3 linked regions of the Homo sapiens genome follow. The protein of the gene in region 3 interacts with the protein of the main gene of each other region in a biochemical or structural test. Each region holds a gene or a part of one and is shown on either strand. Other genes may lie near its edges.

Region 1 (8,592 bases), on a different chromosome or scaffold from region 3:
ATAAGACCTGGACAAGGGGCTCTACCCCTTGAGCCTCAGTTTCCTCATCTGAAAAACTGGAATAATAATAATATCTAATTTATAAAGGCTTTTGGAGGTTAAATGAAGCAGTAATGCCTCTTACATATAAATAAAATTCTGAGTATGATATACAGCACATAAATTCTAAATAATAAAGACTCAAAACCATATTTCATTGGTTTTGTTGATGCTGATTATTATTATTATAATTAATACTATTAGCTTAATTCAAAAGCTAACATCAACCTACAGCAACCTGCAGAAAGATGTCCTGCCAAATACTTGCTAATTTAATCCAGGAGCAAAAATCTATGATTCTGGGCTTGAGTGAGCTTTCCTAATTTTAAAACTCTGATGCTCATTTTGTCCCCAAGAATGTGTTTAGATGACAGAGCAATCAGAATTTGACATGTATAAATGCTTGGCATGTTAAAATAATGAAAGATATTTTCACCATTGTAAGGAAACAGCTTTTAATCCATCTCTCTGGTTCAACATCACATTTTTCTATAGTTTCTCATGACTTCTTCCTTAACAATTGGAATAGGTATGAAAAAGCTGAGCTGAACACATAGCTGCTTAGAAATGAGCTGCTTAAAGTGTTAAAACAACAGAAACAGCAAGCATGAGTTTAATGCTATGTATGCCGTCACAATACTAATTTCTCTATTTTAAATTACAGATTACACACACACATACACACACACACGGAATCACGTCTATATTGCTGGGATTTTCATTATATAACAATATATCATTTTAAATGATTTGAGGCAAATTATTGAAAAAAATTAAAGACTGAACTCCATAAAAAGGAAATCACCTGAAATCAAATATAACCTTGTTAACAAACCAGCACATTAGCAACATTTTTAGGGGCAACAACATAATCAGCAACTCTAAGACATCAATCAAATGCATTAAAAACAGGAAGTACTAACTCTAATTCCTAATTTCCAGAAAGGCAAATATACCATAATTAAATAACACGTTATAAGGAGATTTGTCTGTGTAGGTCTACTTCTGAATCCCCGAAGTTACATACTTGTACCACAAGCCCATACTCTTGAAAGAAAATTCTGGACCCAGTCCACATGGAATTTTGGTTAAAACATCTAATTCATTGCAGAGAAGAATTTAGTCTTTTCCACGGAAGAGACAGCATGTGTTAGAATGAGAATACTTTATAGAAATGACCAGTGACAAGCCGGCTATGTAAGGGGGCTTCTGATGCCTGGCGTTAACAAGAGACAGAGAGTATTATTGTTGAAAGGGATCTTTGAGATTACAGAAGGAGCTGAGGTGTGAATAATCGAACACCATCCCCTTGTTGCCTGAAGGAGAAGTGAGACAGCAAAACAAATCAAATTTCCAGGAGCTGCACCGTGTATGGTGAGCGAAGACGCAATGAGGACATGTCTGTAGGAGAACAGAGGTAGAAGTTAGCTCCTCAAGTAACAGTTGCCATCCCGAGGCACCACAGCACAAGACAGTAGCGGAAATGAACATGACAACGCGGATGGTGGGTGACAAGAGTCTTGCCTGGATATTGACATTTTTAAAGTGTAGAAGAAAATCGCAGGTCACTGAAACAAAGGCTGATGGTGCCCAGCAGGTTACTCTTGAAATCAGAAACAGAAGTTCATGAGAGGCAAGAAGACAGAAACAACAACTGAAAAACTTAGAGTGGATCGCTAACTTGCAGGAGCTGTGCAGCTTTGGCTTTGCAGGTTTTAGAAGCTCTCCCTACGCCACGTCTTTAAATATATGTATGTTCAATCAGCAGGAGGAAGGGACTAACAAGAGCCTTCTGCGGTAAGCACCTGCATCAAACAATGGCACTGATCTCAGAGGGATTTTAAACAGCTGTGCATAAACTTCAAAAGTAATTTGCAACCATATTAGTAAATGTCACTCTTCTTCCCGCTAGACACAGCACTTTTAAAAGAGATTAAGCATCCGCAGTAAGCCTGCCATTTTACAAGGGTTACCAAAGATAAGTTAGGGAAAATATGAAGATGATGATTCACAAGGTCGGGGTGTGGGGTGGGGTGGGGGACCCAGGACCTTAGGAATAGGGCTTGTCTATCACACAGCCTCGGGCAAGAAGGGCCCAGTGGGGACCATGGCTTCTAGGGAGCAAACCAAGGGAAAAGAGCAACGGAGTGGACCCTCCAGGCTTCTTGCCTCTCTCACGGAGCCTCACGAATCCCAGTGGTTTAGAATTTTCTTTGGCAAAAGAAAAGGTCAAAGAGGCCGGAGTTGACAGAAAGCATGGGCGGACTTCTCAGATCTTGTAGGTGGTTCTTAAAAGAATTCAGCAGGCTTGAGGTGTGCTCTCAAAGGGCAACTGGAACGTCAAGGACTTGGACACCAGGCACAGATGGTTCATTTCCCATGGACAGGAAGAGGGCACGGAGTGCTCCCTCTTCCCTCCACCTTCTCCAGCCTAGTCCCCCTCAGCCTGTGCCACTCCTGAATCATCTTTTATAGCACCACGTCCAGCCCGCACAGGGGCAGGACAGCCCAGGGAACAAGGCAGTCCTGTGGCGCTCTCCTTGCAGAAATGACCGGAGTCTCCCAATCCAGCCAGCCCGTGGACCTCTCTTCATGCCCACGGGGGAGTGCACACGCCTGTAGCATTCAACAGTCACTCTCCCATTGATAACGGTGGCTCTCGAAAATCCAATACCACAAAGATACTTTATTGCACAAACTTTGCTTGGTTAACCTGGCCCTCAAAGCTGGGGAATAACCTCACTTGAGGCTACAGGAATGAGCACGCAGATTTTTCTTTTTTTTTTTTTTTTGGTATCTTTCAAAGACCTGCCTCCCCCTCCCCCAGGCCCTTGACCAGAAACTTGGCTTGTTTAGAAGCCTGAGCAATGGCACCCCCGTCCGTGCTCCAATACATTCCCAGAAAAGGGGTTATGCTCCCCTGTGGACAGGATACCATCTCCAGAAAACATGTTTCCTCACGCATTTTTTTTTTTTTTTTTTACCAAGAATACAAAAACTTTCCACCTTCTTCCCTCCCCGCAGGCCCCCTTTCGTTCAGGTGAGAAGGAAAAGGGAGAAGAAAGGAGGAAGCGCCCCCAGGCCGGCGGCCCCCACCCGGCTAAGGTCGCCAGCATCCCGCATCCCGTGCGACCTGCGTCCCAGAAACCCAGCGGGGAAATTCTTCCCGGTGCGCTCTTGCGCCCGCTTGGTTCCATTTCCTACTCCGCCTGCTCACCCGGCAGCCCTCACCCCTTCCCGGAGGCTCTCCGAGGGGCCCGGGTAGCCCTTCTCGCCACGGGTCTCGGCCCCTCCAGCCCGCTCCCTCCCGGCGGCGGCGCGGGGCGCGGGGCCCTACCTGGAGCGAGCACGGCGCCGCTGCTGCCCGGTGGCGCTGGGACTGCGCGGGGACTGCGCGGGGACTGCGCGGGGACTGGCGGGGCTGGCGGGGCTGGCGGGGCTGGCGGGGCTGGCGGGCCCGGCGCACTGCGGGTGCGCCTAGAAGGCGGTGCCCGCCAGGGGGCGCTCGCCAGCCTCCCCGCCAGCCCGGCCTCCCGGGACCCGGCACCTCTAGCCAGGGACGCGCGCTCGGTCCCCCGCCGTGCGCCCCCGGTCCCGCGCCCAGGCTCCCGCCCCTGGCCTCCTTACCAGCCACTTGTCGCCCAGCTGCGAACTGGAGCGGGAGGCGGCGGCCGGAGGGCCCAGGACAGCCCCGGGAGGGCGGCGAGGCGGAGCAGGAGCGCCCCGGCTCCGGCCACATTCTCAGAGTCAGGAAAAGGGGCGAGAGGCCACATGTCTCCCTCTCGCCCAACTGAAAACGAAACGGCGCTCCAGCAGATTGGGTGGAAAGAGCTGGGTCTCTTTTCTCTGTTTTTCACGCTAGAAAGGGCTTGTAAACATTGTTCCTTTTAAAATGACCTACCCCAGGCATTTGTTTGGGCACACTTCTGTCCTGGGGTCATCGTTCCTAGGTGGCTTCGGACCTGGGACTTTTCCTGTATCTGCACATTGTCGTTTTATACACAATTGCCAAGGTGGGACTGCTTTCAACTTTACTGTGCTTGAAGCTGCAAAGGTAATGTTGCCGCCGTGCGTGTCATTTTAGGACTTTTTATGCCTTGCGGGTAATACTAATGATGGTCACAGGGAGGATAAACGGGGTGGTTTCTTTTTCTATACTCCATGTAACTAATTTCTCATTCAGGTTAGAAAATTATATGTCTGGTTACTAATATTCTTACTGAATGGTTTCCTTGCAATGATGACACCAAATAATTAAAACGTACTTGATTAAGACTTTTGTTGCTGTAGTGTACTAAGATCAGATTAATCTGAGAAGTAAAATAGTAATTTTTTGTCCTTTTTTCTTTTCTTGTTTTGAGAGAGACATTAAAAACGATTAAAACAAAACAAAACAGGCCAGGTGCGGTGGCTCATGCCTGTAATGCCAGCACTTTGGGAGGCTGAGGCGGGTGGATCGCTTGAGGCTGGGAGTTTGAGACCAGCCTGGCCAACATGGCAAAATCGTGTCTCTCCTAAAAATACAAAAATTAGCTGGGTGTTGTGGCACGTGCCAGTAATCCCAGCTACTCAGAAGGCTGAGGCAGGAGAATCGTTTGAACCTGGGAGGAGGAGGTTGCAGTGAGCTGAGATCTCACCACTGCACTGCAGTCTGGGTGACAGCAAAACTCTGCCTCAAAAAAAAAAAAGGTTTAACAAAAGCCAAAAGTTGAATTAGCAGCCTTCTGATCATGGGAATGTAGGATGTCAACTAAAAAGAACCTCAGAGGTTGGGAAGGCAGATGAAAAACTGAGGCCCCGAAGTGTTTCAAGACTTGATTAAATCACTCAGGTCTGCACTAGGAAGCGAGTTATGATGATGCCCCTAATCTATATGAACCCAAATAAAGCCAAAACACACACACCTTTTAAGGATAAAACTATATTCCATTAAAATTAGCCCCGCATTTGTCAATATCTAACAGCATTGGACTGACCCTCAGGCCAGAGGCTGTAGCTCTTGGAAGATCCTAGCCAGGAGGTTTGAGAGTGGCCAGTACCTCGGAAGTGCTGGCTCACTCTGACATCATCAGAACCTGGCATACAGTAGGCGCTCATTGGGTATTTGCTATGGAAATTAGGCAGGAAAGTGCGTCTGTGTCTGGAAACAAAGAGGCAAAGCTTAAGCAGTGATCCCCATGCAGATTCTTTCTGCAAACTACAAAACAGAAGCTTCCCTAGTTCAGACTGCCATCCATCTGGCTCTTTCTCCAATTGTTTTTCAGCGGATCCTGTTACAGTGCAAAGAAGAAATGGCAAACGGATAACAGCTACTGTGCCTAGAAGATGGTAGATTCCTCACGCTCCATATCTGGGTTTCTCATTGACAATTAGGCACTGAAAGGAAGCTCATATGTCCTGTTAATTTAATCAGTAGTTAGTGGCTTTAGAAAAAGTTTCATATATACACCAGGTATGATAAGGACTTTTTTTTTTCTTTTTGAGACAGAGTCTTGCTGTGTTGCCCAGGATGGAGTGCAGCGGCGTGATCATAGCTCACTGCAGTTTTGATCCCCCAGGACTCAAGTTATCCTCTCACCTCAGCCTCCCAAATAGCTGGGACTACAGGCACACATCACCATGACCAAGCTAATATTTAAAAAGATTTTTTTGTAGAGACGGGGTCTCACTATGTTGCCCAGGCTGGTTTAAAACTCCTGGGCTCAAGTGATGCTCCTACCTCAGCTTCCCAAAATGCTGGGATTATCGGGGTGAGCCACCATGCCCAGCCTGTGATGACTTTAGACGCACTACTCATATAATATTCATAATCTGATGTGATATGTATCATCATCATTATCATCTCTCTTTAACAGAAGAGACTAACAAGGCTTAGAAAGGTTATGTACCTCGCTCAAGATCCCACAATTACTAAAGTACCAGAACCAAGATTCAAACCCAGGTCAGGCTGGAGCCACCATCTCAAGAGCTGCTGAATAATTAATTCTCCTTTTTTTTTTTTTTTTTTGAGATGGAGTCTTGTTCTGTCACCCAGGCTGGAGTGCAGTGGCACAATCTTGGCTCACTGCAACCTCTGCCTTCTGGATTCAAGTGATTCTTCCTGCCTCAGCCTCCTGAGTAGCTGGGATTACAGGCATGTGCCTGCCACCATGCTCAGTTAATTTTTGTATTGTTAGTAGAGACGGGTTTCACCATGTTGGCCAGGGTGGTCTCGAACTCCTGACATCAGGTGATCCGCCCACCTCAGCCTCCGAAAGTGCTGGGATTACAGGCATAAGCCACTGCGCCCAGCCAATTCTCCATTCTTACATCGTACACTCAGTTTTCTCTTTCTTTCTCTTTTGGACAACTGATCTTTGAGGACTCTTGGCTACTCAATTGTCCTATAATCGTATAGTCCTACAACAGGAAACCCGTTAACCTGAAGATCAGATCTTTTAAAACAACATCCATCATATATCTACAAAATTGGGATTTTTTTATCGTAAAATTTCATCTAAAACAAAAAATTCACATCTGTTCTTGGTATCCATTAGGTGTAGTGGACACCTCTAGATATTCTTGATGCCAGCATCCTGTAGACCCGCCATCTCCTTTCCCAGGCCATGGGGTGTTTCTGTTTTCTATTAGACACTGTCTCTTAGTTATATAAACGTGGCTGCTCTCAGAAGTTCTCCACACCTTTGTTTCCTGGAAGAGGAAATGGCATTTCCTGGAGGGGATGACACGTGGGCGGTGAGGTTCCACTCACTACGTTAAACACACCCTAACTTTCAGCTGTGTACTTCTTTTCCTCTTTCAGGTTCTGCCCTGATGTTTCCTGGAATAATGCTGAGGACTGCCTTTCGGGTAGCCGCCCTATTCAGTTCACTTCATCTCGGAAATACCTGACCCCTGCCTTGGATCCAGCGGCCCTCCTGAGAGCTGAGGAAGGAGGAAATCCTATGTGTCTGCTCCCGGAGCTGCCACAACCCATCTTCCCACAACTCGGAACTTGGAAAAAGGAACCCAGGACACGACTTTGCTTTTCTTTTGGACCTAGTTGGTGATTATACTCTGTCTCCCATGGAGACCACGTCTTGCATCCTTCCTTCTATATGGGATTTAGGATAGAAATTAAAAAGAAAACATATTATTTTGAGTCTTGATTTGGAGAAAGGTAGTATTCAGGAGGAAGTAGGCTATGATACACATAGAAAATTTGAGGACAGTGTTACTTAACAAGGACATTTCTGTCTCTGCAGAAGTCACAGCTTGGAGGAAACCAGTTTGCACTATTTGATGAGGAATTTGGCCACCAAACCACTGATACTTTCCCAAAGGTTTGGCAGAAATTGTTTTTTGAGTGGCTCACCAGAGTACCCAGAAGAATCAGTATGGAATTAGAGGACAGTGGCCTACCCTAAATAAAGACATGAGTGATGTATAAAGTCTAGTGTCAATTTATTCAGAAAATATCAAAATTATTCTGGGAGCTATGGGTCAAAGTTGATAGGCACAAACAAACAAAAACGAAAGGTATTTTAAATTCACAGCTTGGATAAGTAAAAGGGAGATGTTGTCATTTCTCTTCTTCAATCCAACTTTAGATTTTCAAGCCGGAAAAAGGGTAATTAGAAGTTAGAAATTGTTATTGCCAGAAAATAGCTCTAAACCCTGAAAAAAAAAAAAAAAAAAAAAAAAACTGACCCTCCTCTTGGGGAGTGATAAACCTCAATTACTGTTGATAGTAAAACTGATATCAACTCTTCGAAACCAGTGAAAGGTGAATGGAAACCTTACCCTAGGTTAAGGTTTAAAAAATGTTCATAATATATATTTGAAAGTTCCATTATTTAAAATATTCATTAGACATGCTTTGTAATGTTAAGTTACTTCAAAAAATCTTACACAAGGGAAGGGAAGTATGTATTATTCCTTCATTTAAGAGAAAGATAATGTGTGAATATTAGTTAATATTTATCGTACATTTACTACCTGTGTCGAAGCGTAGTGTTACACACTTAATTTCAATTATTTAATTTGATTCTAACAATGAATCCCCTGAGATGGATAATATCCTCTTCATTTTACAGATGAGACAATTGAGACTTAAAGGTTAAACAAATGATTTCCTAAGCTCATTCAGCTAATAAACGGTAGGGGACTGCTTGACACCAGTCCAGTTGACCCTCAAATCCATGATTTCTGCCACCATATTCACAGAAACAAGACAAGAGCTGAAAATATAGCCTGACTCTTGAAACAGTCAAAGAATTGTGTATGTTTATGAAAGTTCTGATTAATAAGATATTCTGAGGACAAAAGACAAGGCATGGGTAGAGGGGCAATGTGTAGATTAGAATGTATCACAATGCCCACTAAATAGTAAAACCATAGAAAATGAAATTTAATCCTTACTGTGTAGAATATTTAGAGTAGATTGTTTTTTCCTCGGTGTCAATTACTATTACAACTATCAAAGAATGAAATTAAACAAGAAACGGTTCCTTTGGTTTTTTTTTTTAAAGGTGGGAGTTATAAAAACAGTATTTGCCATCTGGTTTTAGTTAT
Region 2 (7,686 bases), on a different chromosome or scaffold from region 3:
GGTGTAGTTACAAGAGACTCCAAGATCTTTCAATTACAGGTTGTCTTTATATTTGGGGGGTCCCATAGCAAGCCATTTTGTTAAGACGTATTTACATACTATAAGCAGGATCTCACTTATTATACTTTTTTCTATTTCTTTTCCTTGCCAAGAGCTTTAGAAAAGTTTAAGTGGTAATACAAATTTGTAAAAGTGGAAGTGGTGTGAAGGAGAATGAATATTAGATACCTGTTTCTATGGCTTGGGCTTCGTTGGTCTTCCACTGCTCCGCTACATCATTTGCTAATGGATCATCTGGATTGGGAGCACTTAACAAGGCCTGGATCGATAGCAGAACTGTGCGGATCTGCAGTGCTGGGGACCACTTATCTATGAAGGCAACAGGCCCAGTATGATAAAGCATGAAAAAAACAGGCCCAGAACTGCTTCACTTCCCTCCCACAGACCTCTCTGATCTTTGTATAATGTTTACATTCTAAACATGGAATGCTTAAGAGAAAAAGGAGAAAGCTTAATAATAGCATATGCTGATAAAGATAACACTTACCTTTCAAAATATCTAAACATATTCTTCCCAACTTGTCTACATTAGGATGATAAATTTTGGTCATGAAACGTACTTTAGGGGCTGCCATTGGGTATTCTTCTGGAAGGAATAGTTCAAGTTTAAAAGTCCCTCCCTCAAAGGGGGAATCCTGAGGGCCAGCAATGACCACATGAAAATAACGGGCGTTGCTCTCATCTGGTTCGGCTTTGATGCCAGGAACTGGTTCTGCCAGCAAACGCTGGGTTTCCTATGACAGAAAAACAAACACATTTGTGAAACAAATGTCATTTTGCTAGACACCAAAAGTAAAATTAGAAAGTTCATCTCTTAGAACTACGCATAATAGAACAGCTCCAATCTCCCAACAGATTTAGCTTATAAAATGCAAAATTCAAAAAAATACCATTTAAATAATTACAACCAGCTGAATGAAACTGCAAGCGAATACTAATGATGTTATCATACATTTTGGCTACAAATGTCTACAAATATGTTAATAAAATTAGCTTAATAAAACTGATTTTTTACTCAAGTAAAATAAAGTAACATTAGGATTACATAAGTAAGGCAACTTGCTCTAAACTCAACCAAAACCAAGCTATTTAAAAAGTAAAATTAGCTTTTTTGGTGGTTTTTTTTGGCTTGTTTGTTTGTTTTTGAGACAAGATCTCACTTTGTCACTCACGCTGGAGTGCAGTGGCAAGATCTTGGCTCACTGCAGCCTCGACCTCCCTGGGCCCAGGTGATCCTCCCAACTCGGCCTCCTGAGTAGCTGGGATTACAGGTGTGCGCCACCACACCTAGCTAATTTTTGTATTTTTAGTAGAGACGGTATCACCCTGTTGGCCAGGCTGGTCTTGAACTCCTGGCCTCAAGTGATTTGCTCGCCTTGGCTTCCCAAAGTGCTGAGATTACAGGTATGGGCCAACACACTCGGCCAAAAATTAGTTTTTAAACCCACTGAAAACCTCCCCTCTGAAAAATGTAACGGACTAAAGAAAGGAGATAAGAAGAGGCCCAGGTACCTGAACAGGACTAAAGAAATATATTTAACAATGCTGATTACTCTAAAATTGACAATTAACTTCAGAGGAACCCTTAATACTCCCAACAATCATACCATTAGTTCTCTTTTTCATCATTCTCCCTCTCCCCTAAATAATTGTATTATTATTATTTCTCTTCTCTCTTCAAACCTCCAGCATCTCCATCCCCATCCTCACTTGTGGCTGATGTCCTGCTTCCTATTTCATGACAAGTTAGATACTTCCATCAGTTCCCACTGTAGCATTTGGACATTTCCCTGCATCTGCACCCATACACTCTGGTTTTTCTCCTGTATAGATGAAATGTCACGTACTCTTGGCTAGGGCCAATCGGTCTTGAGCACTAGATCTTACTGATCTCTGAAATGTTTGTTCTTCGGTACCATAAAGAAATAGCACTTGAACATAAATTTAATTTATTTAGTAAAGCCATTTTTACTTCCTGCAGAAAGGGTACACTCGCCAGGAGTTTTGCCACAAGAGTATACTGAACAAAGGAGACAGGGTCATTTATAACCTGACGCGTCCACCCTACTGCTGTGTCCGGTTTCCACTGGCTGGAACGGGATCTCACATTCTGTATTTGTCCTGACTGGCTAGCAACTTAGAACTTTTTAAAAGAGGTAAAGGTAGAGGGGAACAAAGGAAGGAGGAAGTAACTTGTGGAATGCTGAGAAAGGTAAAAACACTTTTAAATAAGGAAGAGGAACAGGCTATGACCTAATGCTTGCTTGGACCAGTATAAGCATGCCAGGGCAAATATTTAGGCTAAATTGTGGGAGCTAAGAACATAAAGTATATTGATTTCTTTATTATGGCTAGCAAATATTTAAGAATGTTTGCACAGGTCTTCGAATAAATTTTGCTTCTAAGAGAAGTTACTATTTATTCCTAATTAGATGGGGAGGAAAGTCTTTGAAGAGGAACCTCTACTTTGCTTGTCTCCAATTTCTCTCCTCCTCTTCTGTCTTGAACATACCCTCCAATCAAGCTGTAGTTATCGCTAACTTGTTTGTTAAGGTCACCAATGATTTCCACAAGGTTAAATCAAATGTCCAGTGCTTAATCTTTATCTTACCTAAATGCGACATCTTATCCAGCTGGTCTCCTTCCTCTTTGCAAAGCTTTATCTAACTTCCTATAAACATTCTCATGGCTCTCTTCCTCCTTGTCTGGCAGCAGCTTCCTTTAGTTTCCTTGTTGGTTTCTTCTATCTCCCAACATCGCAACACTGAAATGCACTGGGGCTCTATTCTAGGGCTTCCTCTCTGTTTATACATTTCCACAGTGATCTCATGTAATGCAATGAATTTAAATACTAAACACACTCTATAAGCTGAAGCCTCCCCTAATTCATATCTAGCCCAGACCTCTCCCCTCATCGTGCCTCTTGCCTCTATAACTACCTGCTTGATATACACTCTTGAATGTCTAATAAGCATCCCAAACTTAACATGACCTCCCTATCCCCAACCTTTGCTCCTCCCATAAAGTCTTCCCCACATCAGTTACTGGCAAACCCATCTTTCCAAATGATCCACCTTTTCCTTCATATGCCACACACATCTAGCCTGATTGGCAAATTGGTTTTTTTTATACTTCAAATTCTACTCATGATTGGACTGTTTCTCACCATTCCACTGCTACACCTCTGATCCAAGCAACCATCAGCTCTGACCTGGCATACTACAACAGCCTCCTAACCTGTTCTTCCTGCTTCTGACCTCACTACCTCCCTCGCAGGTCTATTATCCACAGACCCTTTAAAAGTCATAGTCCTGAGCCGGGTGCGGTGGCTCACGCCTGTAATCCCAGCACTTTGGGAGGCCGAGGCGGGTGGATCACCTCAGGTCAGGAGTTCGAGACCAGCCTGATCAACATGGAGAAATCCCATCTCTACTAAAAATACAAAATCAGCCGGGCATGGTGGCACGTGCCTGTAATCCCAGCTACTCGGGAGGCTGAGGCAGGAGAATCATTTGAAGCCAGGAGGCGGAGGTTGCAGTGAGCTGAGATCGTGCCATTGCACTCCAGCCTGGGTGACAGGGCGAGACTCCATCTCAAAAAAAGTCTGGGCATGGTGGCTCACACCTGTAATCCCAGCATTTTGGGAGGCCGAGGCGGGTGGATCGGCTCAGGTCAGGAGTTCGAGACCAGCCTGATCAACATGGAGAAATCCCACCTCTACTAAAAATATAAAATTAGCTAGGCATGGTGGCGCATGCCTGTAATCCCAGCTACTTGGGAGGCTGAGGCAGGAGAATCGCTTGAACCCCGGAGGTGGAGGTTGCGGTGAGCCCCGATCATGCCATTGCTCTCCAGCCTAGGCAAAAGAGCGAAGCTCCGTCTCAAAAAAAAAAAAAAAAAAAAAAAGTCATAGTCCTTGTAATGGGCCCCCAAAAGACGCTCTATATGATGCCCTCACTCCACCTACCTCTCTGACTTATCTTCAGCTGTTCTCTCTCCATCCCCTAACCTTCTCTGTTCCAGACAAAAATTAGCTTCCTTGTAGTTCTTCAACGTGCCAGGCATCCGCTCACCTCAAGGGCTTTGTACTTCCTCTTCCTCCCCAAGATATCCATATGGCTTGCTCCCTCAGCTCCTAAGATCTTCATGTTTTCTCAGTGAAGCCATCATAACTGAAATTGCAAACCCCATTCAACCCTACCCTGCACACTCCCTATCCCCACTCCCTGGCTTTATCTCCACAGCACTACTAACAAATCTCATTTCTACTTATTTTGTTCAGAATTTAAGCTCCATGAGAGGATGGATTTGAGTCTATTTTATGGACTGCTATATCCTCAGCATTTGGAACACTGCCTGGCACAATAGATATTCAATTAATATTTACTGAATTCTGAATCTATTTGATGTTATGAAAAGAGGGAAATAAACGATCAGAATTTCATCGTTAACATCATTAAGGCAGGGTTATTTTCAAGGCAGGATGTGCACATTATGGAAGGAAAACAAAAGGAGCCACTCAGGTATGGGGAAAAATAGTCTAACTTCTACTTATATTTATTTTTAACCAGAAAAATGTTCATATTTAAATAAGCTTTTAGGTATGAAAAACAATAAATGAGAACATTTTATTTACACTGCCTTCACCTAAAAAAAAATACATCATAAACTGTTTCATTCCACAAGCTACAGGGCATACGTTAAAAACAACAACAACAAATAACTTCTCTCTCAGCACAGTAATATACTGAAATAGTCATAAGATGTAAATACAAATCAAATGCTTCCCCAAAATGTGTTAATTAAACCCATGGCCATTTTAGGTAATGTCTCTGGTATTTTAAGACTAGTTTTTTGTTTTGATCATGGCGATGTAAGAGCAAGTGAGAAACTGACATGTTCTTTAGGTTCAAACTAAAACATTTTTAGAGTATTAAAAAGCTCAAGAGGCAATAATGAAGCCTCTGACCTTGGGAAGTCCTTTAACATGTGACCAGAACAAAAGAGGCTGGTCTTCATTTTTTAGGAAAAAAGTTAAGATATTAGGGATGAATAGCAGGAGTAGAAAAATGAGAAAATAACTGGATGGTAAAATTCCTTGAATTCTGGGCTCTCCTCACCTCCATCCTTTAATTTTACCCCAGGTCTTCATGTTTTTAGAAAGCCATAAATTGGGTGACTGGAAAAAAAAGAAAGCCAGGGCCCAAGAGTCCCAATCCACCACTCACCAGTTACACAAAGTAGTAGCAGCTCTGTATCTACTATAAAAAGCTACAGAAAGGCCTCCAAAAGCGTATCCCAAAATAGCTTCAAAATCACTCTCAATACACAGTGGCAGAGATAGGTATGGCATTTACTTTCTCATCTTCAGTTCACCCTCAAAATCAGATATTCTTTGTAAAGAATGTACATATTAAGCACATCATGTGACCTGATCAAGCCTAGATTTAATTGGAACACATTCTAAAATAAGCTTTCGTGTGTAGAAAACATTTTGAAATAGTCCTTATAATATATGCTGCTCTCAAGTTCTAATGGACTGACACAAAAACATGCATAATTATTTCACTAAACTGTTGGTTTCCCTAACAAACCCACAGCATAAACTGTGGGAGGGGAAAAAAGGAATAAAATCCAAACTAAATGAAACAAGTCTGAAATGGCAGCATCTGAAAAAGTCTCAACCACAGAAACTGATGTCAACTTTTTTCCTAAAAAGGCAAAAACTGGCTAGGAAATAAAATCTTTCCGGCCACTATTCAACACATGACTAACTAAAATACCTTCTGGTTTTACACTATTCTTTGGTGGAAAGACAGAGTACAGTATGATTTCTTTAAGTGAAGAAGTAAAGGGCTAAAATTCCTACTGTTTCACTTATCTATCTTTTTTTTTTTTTTTGAGACAAGTCTCGCTCTCTTGCCCAGGCTGCAGTGCAGTGGCACGATCTTGGCTCACTGCAACCTCTGCCTCCTGGGTCCAAGTGAGCACCTGGCTAATTTTTGTATTTTTAGCAGAGACAGGGTTTCACCATGTTAGCCAGGCAGGTCTCGAACTCCTGACTTAAAGTGATCTGCCCGCCTCAGCCTCCCAAAGTGCTGGGATTGTAAGCGTGAGGCACCACGCCCGGCCTTATCTATCTTTTGGCACAAATAATTTACATTGCAGGTGGGATGCCATGGTTCACACCTGTAATCCCTGCACTTTGGGAGGCTGAGGCAGGCAGGGGAATCACTTGAGGCTAGGAGTTCCAGACCAAGCTGGGCAAGCATAGTGAGACCCCATCACTACCAAAAAAAAAAAAAAAAAAAAGTTGACAAATGAGATCACATAGGAAGGCCATAGTTGTTTACAGAAAAACAGAATAACCCTTAAATGAATTTTGTGATTCTATTATGTTTAAAAGCAGTCCAAGGATTGAATCCCAAACAGAAGTGAGTTTAGGGCCATGCATAATAGAAAGCACTGTAGACTATGTTCAGGAAATTAGTTAATGTAGACTATGTTCAGGAAGTTAGTTACTAAAATAGACAGGTAAGTTGGTAAAGGAATAGGGTATGGATTTAAATGTCCACAAAATTAAGTCTAAAGGAAGGTATCTCATCTTATAGAACGCATACAATAGTTAATGCTACAAATATTTTTAAAAGGAATCAAATATCACATCAAATTGATCTAATTATCAACAGATCTACTGGGTCTTGAAGAGCAAACCCTAGACTCACACTACTGTAAACTATACTGTAGTTAGTCAATTATAACAACTGACATTCTGTCAACCTATCTCTATTAACCAGGACTCTTATTTTTAAGTTGAAAAATAATTTGTGCTCAGTACGAAGCAATGACAGGTCTTAGATGCTCTTCTGCAAGGCAATGATTGGAGTATGTACAGTAAAATTTTGGGGTAATAAACAGTATTCTTAGAAAAAGTGCTAATTTGTGTGTGAGAAAAGTTGGTCCAGTTAGTAACTATCTATATCCCAGTGCATCCTGTCTACAGTGATTAGGTTTTTTAGAATATTCTCTGAAACACAAAATTGCAATATATGACCAGTAATATCAACTGTAGATCTTTTAGCTCATCTCAAACAAGAGCTGTCTGATAACTCAGTAACTGCCAATTTCATTACTGAAAAATAAGTGTTAAAAAACTGAGTGATGCTTCAATGATACCTACTCTGTAAACTCCAACCTGTCACTACATCTTTAAGCGATTCTAAAATATTAACAAACAGGGTTCTGGACAAAGTTGTGTGTTATAGAAAAAAAATTTAAATAAAGAAAAAAATTATGAAAAATTTGTAAGATAAAACAAACGGGCTCCTTTTTTGGGATCACTAATAAAGCAAGTCAATTCTTCATTATGTACACAACTGTAAGTTACTTATGAGAATCTGCAAGTTCACCCTCTATATATATAAGTGGGCATTTTTATTTATCACTTTTTTTGTAGAGATGGGTTTCTCTATGTTGCCCAGGCTGGTCTCCTGCCTCAAGCAATCTTCCCGCCCTGGCCTCCCAAAGCAATGGGATGACAGACGTGAGCCACCACACTTGGCCCAATAAGTGAGCATTTAAAAAATGTTACCACCAGCCTGGGCAACATAGCAAGACCCCATCTCT
Region 3 (7,686 bases):
ATGAAAAAGACAAAACCCAAACTGTTAAAACTTATTCAAGGGCCTTCATTAGATGGTGAAGACATTGTTTCAGAATTCAGGATGCCTGGTTTAATTTCAGTTTTGCCCCCAAGTAACTCTATCATCTTTAACTCACAAGATTTCAGTTAACCTCATCTACAAAAGATAAGCGGTAAACAAATAAATATAACGTACTTTCTGAAGCTAAAATTCTAGCCTGTGACCAAATATCTTGGAGATACACACACACACACACACACACACACACACACACACATATATATTTATCTATATTTTATTAAAGAGACGAAGTCTCACTATGTTGCCCAGGCTGGCCTCAAGCTATCCTCCCACCTCAGCCCCCTGAGTAACTGAGACTACAGGCCTAGTAGCATCTTGATTTTAAAAAAAAGCTAAGCTCATTCATTTTCACTGCTTGTCAGTGAAACAAAATGTGAAAAATCATCCTAAAGCTTTGTGTTCGGTTTTTCTTGGATCTAAACATTAATCTTCCTTAAAGATCTTATTTATTTTTGGTAAAAGTGAGGAAAACATAATAAATGCCCACATTCTAATATTAACTAGAGAAAAGAAATTCAGTATCTCATCTCATTAAAAGGGTTGGGCAGAGGGAGTGGCTTCAAAGAAATATTTCACTATTGACTGAAATTAAATATATTTCCAGGTCTTTTCACTTTTATTTGCCTTGTAAAATAAAGAAAAATGGAAGTCAATGTGACAATAATTATAAAAGCAACATTATCAGGCAATTTATGTTGTACTTAAGTTTGTTTTTAAAAAGCCTAAGCTTCAGAGAGCTCAATATTAAGGGAGAAGATCAAGGATTCTATTTACATCTTTGGAACTGACTGTCCTAAAATCTATCAGTTTATAAAATATCAGCACTGGATTGGTACAAAAAGTAAGAGAAAAATACTTTTATTGCATGAGTAGCATTGACCAAATACATGCTGAGAAAAAGGTTTGATTTCACATAGATAATACAAATAGTTAGCAAGTGCCTGGATTGTTTATTGTCTAGAGAGGAAGGTGGGAGGTAGTGGTAGAAAAAGTCATAAATGTATGCAGAGTATTTACTGTTTTCTTTTTTGGATAATAGCTACTATTCACTAAGTGTTTTTACTAAGTGCCTGGCACAGTGCTGAGTACTCTACATGTACTAGATCATTTAAGCCTCTTAACAGTCATAGGGGAGAGTCTATTATCTGCACTTTACAGAGGAGGAAACTGAGGCATATAATGGTTATGTAATATTTACCAGTAATTCTTATTCTGGAGCCCATCTCAACCATGCTAGATTGACTTCTATTTATAAGGGTTAGCAATCAATCTATATTTTAATAAAATACAATATAAAAATCTGATAATCCTCTGACCTCAGCAAAAGTCACCAACAATAGATTTTTAACTTTTTCGTTTCTTAAGAAAAAAAATTTAAGATGTTGTAATACCTGAAACATATCGGTGTTGCTGTCATGAGTATATTCAACCACCACAGTCTGGGCCCGAGATAAAGTATATGATATGCTATGCTGGTCTTTGTTGCTTATTGCCTAAGAATGAAAAAGTTAATAGCAAAAATTAGTAGGCAGGTCAATCCAATCAGATAATCTTTTCATTAAAAAAAGGGAAAACTATTTATCAAATACATGACATATTTATACATTTTCCCCCTGAAATTTAGAGAGGTTAATAACTCCTGTCAGCTGTGACAGTAGTTTCTCGGGTTGAATGGGGTACTGAAGAATATTTAGAAGCAGTTACAGAATAAAAACATAACTTTCTTTCTTTTTTTTTAAAGACAGAGTCTTGCTCTGTTGCCTAGGCTGGAGTGCAGTGGTGCAATCTCGGTTCACTGCAACCGCCGCCTCCCAGGTTCAAGTGGTTCTCCTACCTCAGCCTCCCAAGCAGCTGGGACTACAGGTGCACGCTGCCACGCCTGGCTAATTTTTTTTGTATTTTTAGTAGAGACGGCATTTCACCATGTTGCCCAGGCTGGTCTTGAACTCCTGAGCTAAGGCAATCCGCCTGCCTCAGCCTCCCAAAGTGCTAGGATTATAGGCGTGAGCCACTGCGCCCGGCCCATAATTTTCTTTTATCAAACCACTAGACTCCCTTATTAAGTATTTTAAATTATAATCAAAACCAAATCCCACATAAAAACAGAAAACAATAGTACTGCTCTGATAAGAAAATCTTGCAAAATAAGAGGAATCTTATTTTTGAAGTCATTCAGAGAGCTATAAAGTTCACTCATAAGCCAAGTTAACTGGTTTTCTAACCATTTTGTGACTCTACAGATGACAAATGTTGGCCATATGCTGGGTGAGATACAGAAAAATGCATTTGGGATTTGGTCCCAGGAGATAAAAGAAAAAAATTTAAAAAAAAAAAACAAAAGAAACATTCATAGAATGATTAAACATTACCAAAGGAAAGGGATGTAATGCTTATGACTGTACTTCTGATTTATCTCAAACTAAAAACATTGCTAAAAAGAACTTTTCAGTTTTGTTTTCAAGTGTTTTCTATGTATATGAGTTGAAGATAATATCAAAGGAGGGGAAAAATCTAGTCATCACACAAAGGAAGTAGAAATGGGCTGCATAAAACAGACACAAAGAAGAGAATAATTATATACAGCAAAGAAGCTAAATGAAAAAATCCTTCTTAATTAGAAGTTTGGCATCATAAGCTTTTACTTGGTTTCAATTTGCAACTAATCTGTAATAGATAAAGCCTTAAAACAACAGCTTTAAGACTGTCAAATTTCCAAATATACAAAGAGAATACAGAAATACCCTATTTCCAAATATAGAAGAGATTATACTAACGACTCAGCTTTATCAAAGCTTAATACTGCCACTTTTGCTTCTGATTTTTTTTTTTTTTTTTTTTGGAGACAGAGTCTCGCTCTGTCGCCTAGGTTGCAGTGCAGTGGTGCTATCTCGGCTCACTGTAACCTCCGCCTCCCAGGTTCAAGTGATTCTCCTGCTTCAGCCTCCTGAGTAGCTGGGATTACAGGTGCATGCCACCACGCCCGGCTAATTTTTTATTTTTAGTAGAGACGGGGTTTTGCCATGTTGGCCAGGCTGGTCTCGAACTCCTGACCTCGTGATCCACCCACCTCGGCCTCCCAAAGTGCTGGGATTACAGGCGTGAGCCATTGTGCCTGGCCTGCGTCTGATTTTTTTAAGGAATTAAACTACAGATACAATTGAGGCTGCCTACATGTCTCTCCCAGTTCCCTTTTCTCTACAGAGGTATCCAACCTCAAGAATGCAGTGTAGATCATTTACATGCATGTTTTACATATTTCTTTCTACACATTTAGGTATTCATATATACTATATAATTGTTTTACAAGTTTTAAACATATATATACATATATATATACACACGCACACACACATATACATATATATATGTTTAAGAGACCAGGTTTCGCTATGTGGCAGAGGCTGAAGTGCAGTGGCTATTTACAGGCAGGAAAATGGCACACTACAGCTTTAAACTCCTGTGCTCAAGTGATCTTCCTGCCTCTGCCTCCCAAGGAGCTGGGACTAACAGGCATGTGCCACTGTGCCCCGTTAAACAGCTCACTTTTCAATGAAACAATTACTCAGTATTTTGAAAATTAATTCTTAGTGGCTAAAGAGATTTTAAAACATTGGTTTTTATGTGCTTTGAAATTGTAATCTTTGTTTGTTAGTTATTAAACCTACTCTAAGACTGAGAATAAAAACTATGTCAAGTTACGTTTGAGTCTCACTGGCCTAGAACGCAGGGTTTTAACTACTCATCCCAGATGACTGCCAGACTAAATGCTTAATTTTCATCATGACCTCACAAATACATTCCTCCAAAATTTAAAGAGGAGGAGTCAATCTTTTTTTTTTTTTTTTTTTTAAACTGAGACAGGGTCTCACTCTGTCACTCAGGCTGCAGTACAGTGGCATGATCTCAGCTCACTGCAGCCTCTGCCTCCCGGGCTCAAGTGATCCTCCCACTTCAGCCTGCCAAGTAGCTGGGACTTCGGGGCATGCCACCACGCTTGGCTAATTTTTTGTATTTTTGGTGGAGATGGAGTTTCACCATGTTGCCCAGGCTGGTCTCGAACTCCCGAGCTCAAGTGATCCGCCCACCTTGGCCTCTCAAGTGCTGGGATTATAGGTGTGAGCTACCGCACCCAGCCAAGAGTCAATCTGTGATCCCTAAGATTCTTATTGCCTAGTAAAGATGAAAGATGAAAAAGAGATAACAATGAAAACATGAGGGCATGGCAGAGTAAAATAGGAAGAAAAGTACAGAATATGGTATTACAGAGGCAGGGATTAGAAATATTTTCCCTGATAGTGGTTTTCAACCAGAGGTAGTATTAGCAGTCTAAGGGGCATCTGAAAATATGCTGTGCATTTTTTGGCTGTTACGAGGATTTGCAGGCTCAAATGGCATTTTGTGGGTGAAGGACCTATAAATGTCCTGTAGTATGTGGGAAAGTACTGAACAATGAAAAAGTGGCATACCCAAAATGTCAAGAGCACTCCGGGGGGAGCTACTGTAAGAAGCTCCTCAGATTCAATCAATCTGAGGTTTACTTCCACCACCTGCTTAGTATATTCCTTCTCGCCAAAGGAGCAAAAAGAAACTGTCCCTTTTCTGCACCAACTGGCTCCCAAATAGTAACAGAGGAGTCCTAGTCAAGGCCTAAGGATTCTTTCACAAATCAAACTGGATATAAAACAAAGCTGAAAAGCCAATTACCTTCAGACACTGAAGCTGCAACCTAAAACCACATCATATGCCAATTTTTCTGTCTCTTGTTTATTTAATTTACAAAGATATGCTTCAGATGGTATAATATTAATGTACATCCTAGGGCTACTTAGCTAAAGATACAGGTACTTCCAGGAGTCAAAGAACTCTTTCTAATTTTTCTTATTTGCTCATTACAATATTAAATTCTTTGTAACACAAAGTCAGTGTTATAAAATTGGAGGCAGATGAATTCACAGAAAATATAAAGATGTGAAATTCCCCCTCCTTGTCTGTCACTCTAGGAAAAGCCCAAGTATCCTGAAATGGTGGTCCAGCTTCTGGAAATTTTGTTAGAAGAATACAAGGGGGCTAGAAGCATGAAATAGGCTAGGGGGTTGAGAAGTTATATTGTAGATGCAGTTGGATATTGCCTTCATAGCTTTGATTCAACTTAATAATTATTGAGGTCTACTTTGTGCAAGGTACTATGCTCAAATATATGAAGTTATAAACCAAAAATGAATACAACCAATACAAAGAATCTTAAGTAAAGACCCTTAGTTTAAAAATTACCTCATCCAAATGTGCTTCTAATACCTGAATACACATATTATACATCACATTCTTCATCCAGTCCAGGGAGACCCCTCTAGTAACAGAGTGGGAACTTCCCACTTCTCAGGGCAGACAGCTGCATAATTCTAAGTACTAGATAAAGCCCTGTCCCCCATCCCACCTCTTTTAATAAGGAAACAGAGTGTTTCCTTCTAATTTCCACCCACTGATCCTGGTTTGTCATTTTTTTTTTAAAAGTCCAATTCCCCTTCCATATGGCAGCTCTTCAAATACCATGTCTCCAAAGTCTCTTCTCCAATCCAAACAAAAGGCAATTTCTGAAATAGAAATGTAAGGGGAATGCTAGAGAATACAAACAACACATAAAAGTCTTTCAAATTCTCCAAGTTAATTTATGTAGCTTTTTTTTTTTTTTTTTACCTTTGCAGCCTGAGGAGTACAAGCAATATGCACAGTGCTGGGCTTCACCCCATTTGCCTTAGGTCTTTTAAACAAAGCAAACCTACTTTTCCTCCTTCCTCTATCGCCATTTGGGAGAGACCCATTATACCTGATGGGGGAAAAAAAGTATAGGTGATCTCTTGCAAGAACTGCACAATTATAAAACAAATGTTTGACTTTGCCTTGCAGAATCAATTCCCAATTAATTATCTATTAACACATTATAATTATTTAAAATTCCTTTGAGCAACTGTTGATCTCCATACCAGGTGCCAGTGTGTGAAACAAAATGAGATTCTTTTTCTGGCTTCATTCCAAGTCACAGAGAACCTTTTGGATTATACACAGATTCGTGTTATCTCTATTTTTTTCCTTCCCTCTTTTATGGAAGATAATTAAGAGCTGATTAATGGCATGTCTGACTCCTTATGACTCATTCTGTTTTTTTAAGGTGAACTGTTTGCATGTGCTAATACAACCTTTAAAAAGTACAGTATGTATTGTTTAAAACACAATCTCCTTTAATTGTGAACCAAACACTTTAAATAGCTGAACTTTTGAAGTAAGGAATTTTTAGATTTGTTAAGTCTTAGCTACCTGAATGTACAAATGCACTCTCATTATGTTAGCAGAACCTGTCCAACAGACATGTTTGCTAAGTAGTAAACATACTTTTGTTGTTCAGATCTTATGACCATTTCTCCATAACATGTACACATACACACACACACACATATACATCCTAAAGGTAAGCAAGTACTAAACCAATGGAAACAAGTTAAAAACAAAATAAAAATATTTGGGTGTTTACTATGTACCAGGCACTATTGAATGCTATCCCATACACATCACCTCACTAAATCTACCCTTGCAAAAATTCTACTAGATTGAAATCACTGTCCCCATTTTTGTACATTAGGAAACAGACTCAGAAGAATTATATTCTGAAGTGACACTGGCAAAGCCAGAATTTGAATTTAAGTATGTTTGTCATGTGGTTATGTCATTCTTTACTGCTTCATTGAGGCATGAGCAGTAGCTTAATAATAATCTTTCCTCATTCACCGTCCACCTCCCCTGCCCCCGCCCCCTGACAAATCTTGGGTTTGATGATCTACCATATGTAGTTGGTCAATCTAGGGGGAAAGGAAGCAGGGAACAGGGACAGTTTTGAGGCTGGAGGAGGAAGTGATTATAAAATGGCCTGTAATTGTGGCTGGCAAGGAAGAATGTTTTAAAGCTGAGAAGAGAGTTTACTCAATGACTGCCATATATAGAAACTACATTGACCCTTTATAAAAAATAAAATACTTTGTATTGGAGAAAGCCCTTGGTAATGTTGCTAGCCTTGCTGTAAGTCCAAAGTACAGCCCCTTAGCTAATAATTATTTTAGCTATTTTAGGCTTTGTATTGCCCCCAGACCCTCTGTCGATTCCTCACTGCCCCTTCACTACTGTCCTCTGAGTTGCATGACTCATCCCACTTCTGGATCTTGCTCTTTAGTCCCACATTGCGTTCCTGTAGTTCAAAGCTCTTTTCTAAGCAGCAACAGCATGAAACCTTGTCCAGCTTCACTTCTAGAGGGTTGAGAAGAAAAATTATCTGCATTTTAAGACACCAAGTACCAGACACAGAGACAATTACTGTTGCTAATGATTAACTGAGGAACCCATAGGCTAAGACTGGCGGTTTAAAACCCTAAGCTAAATATTAAACTATTCTTCAAATGACTCTCAAATTTCCTGCTAGAAGAATTTAATCTGGAAAAGTTTTTGGTAGTTAAGAGCTGTTTGTCATTGATACCATTAAAATCTATGTGATTTGAAGTTCTAATACTGTAGTTACTATGCTAAATTTATGATCTTTTAAAGCTTTGTTTCTGAGAAAAG

Evidence for each region. The genes of interacting proteins can lie anywhere in the genome.
Region 1: the proteins of PELI1 (region 3) and PRKCQ form a complex in vitro, tested with the Homo sapiens proteins (one study listed by BioGRID).
Region 2: the proteins of PELI1 (region 3) and UBE2N form a complex in vitro, tested with the Homo sapiens proteins (2 studies listed by BioGRID).

The regions. Positions count from the first base shown.
Region 1 is NC_000010.11:6,576,835-6,585,426, forward strand, and holds the start of PRKCQ (protein kinase C theta type), read right to left. Parts: upstream 3,443-8,592; 5' UTR 3,377-3,442; intron 1-3,376. UniProt on the Homo sapiens protein: Calcium-independent, phospholipid- and diacylglycerol (DAG)-dependent serine/threonine-protein kinase that mediates non-redundant functions in T-cell receptor (TCR) signaling, including T-cells activation, proliferation, differentiation and survival, by mediating activation of multiple transcription factors such as NF-kappa-B, JUN, NFATC1 and NFATC2.
Region 2 is NC_000012.12:93,410,506-93,418,191, forward strand, and holds part of UBE2N (ubiquitin-conjugating enzyme E2 N), read right to left. Parts: intron 795-7,686; coding exon 548-794; intron 370-547; coding exon 229-369; intron 1-228. UniProt on the Homo sapiens protein: The UBE2V1-UBE2N and UBE2V2-UBE2N heterodimers catalyze the synthesis of non-canonical 'Lys-63'-linked polyubiquitin chains. This type of polyubiquitination does not lead to protein degradation by the proteasome.
Region 3 is NC_000002.12:64,098,926-64,106,611, forward strand, and holds part of PELI1 (E3 ubiquitin-protein ligase pellino homolog 1), read right to left. Parts: intron 5,906-7,686; coding exon 5,776-5,905; intron 5,673-5,775; exon of another isoform or gene 5,632-5,672; coding exon of another isoform or gene 5,629-5,631; intron 1,575-5,628; coding exon 1,473-1,574; intron 1-1,472. UniProt on the Homo sapiens protein: E3 ubiquitin ligase catalyzing the covalent attachment of ubiquitin moieties onto substrate proteins. Involved in the TLR and IL-1 signaling pathways via interaction with the complex containing IRAK kinases and TRAF6.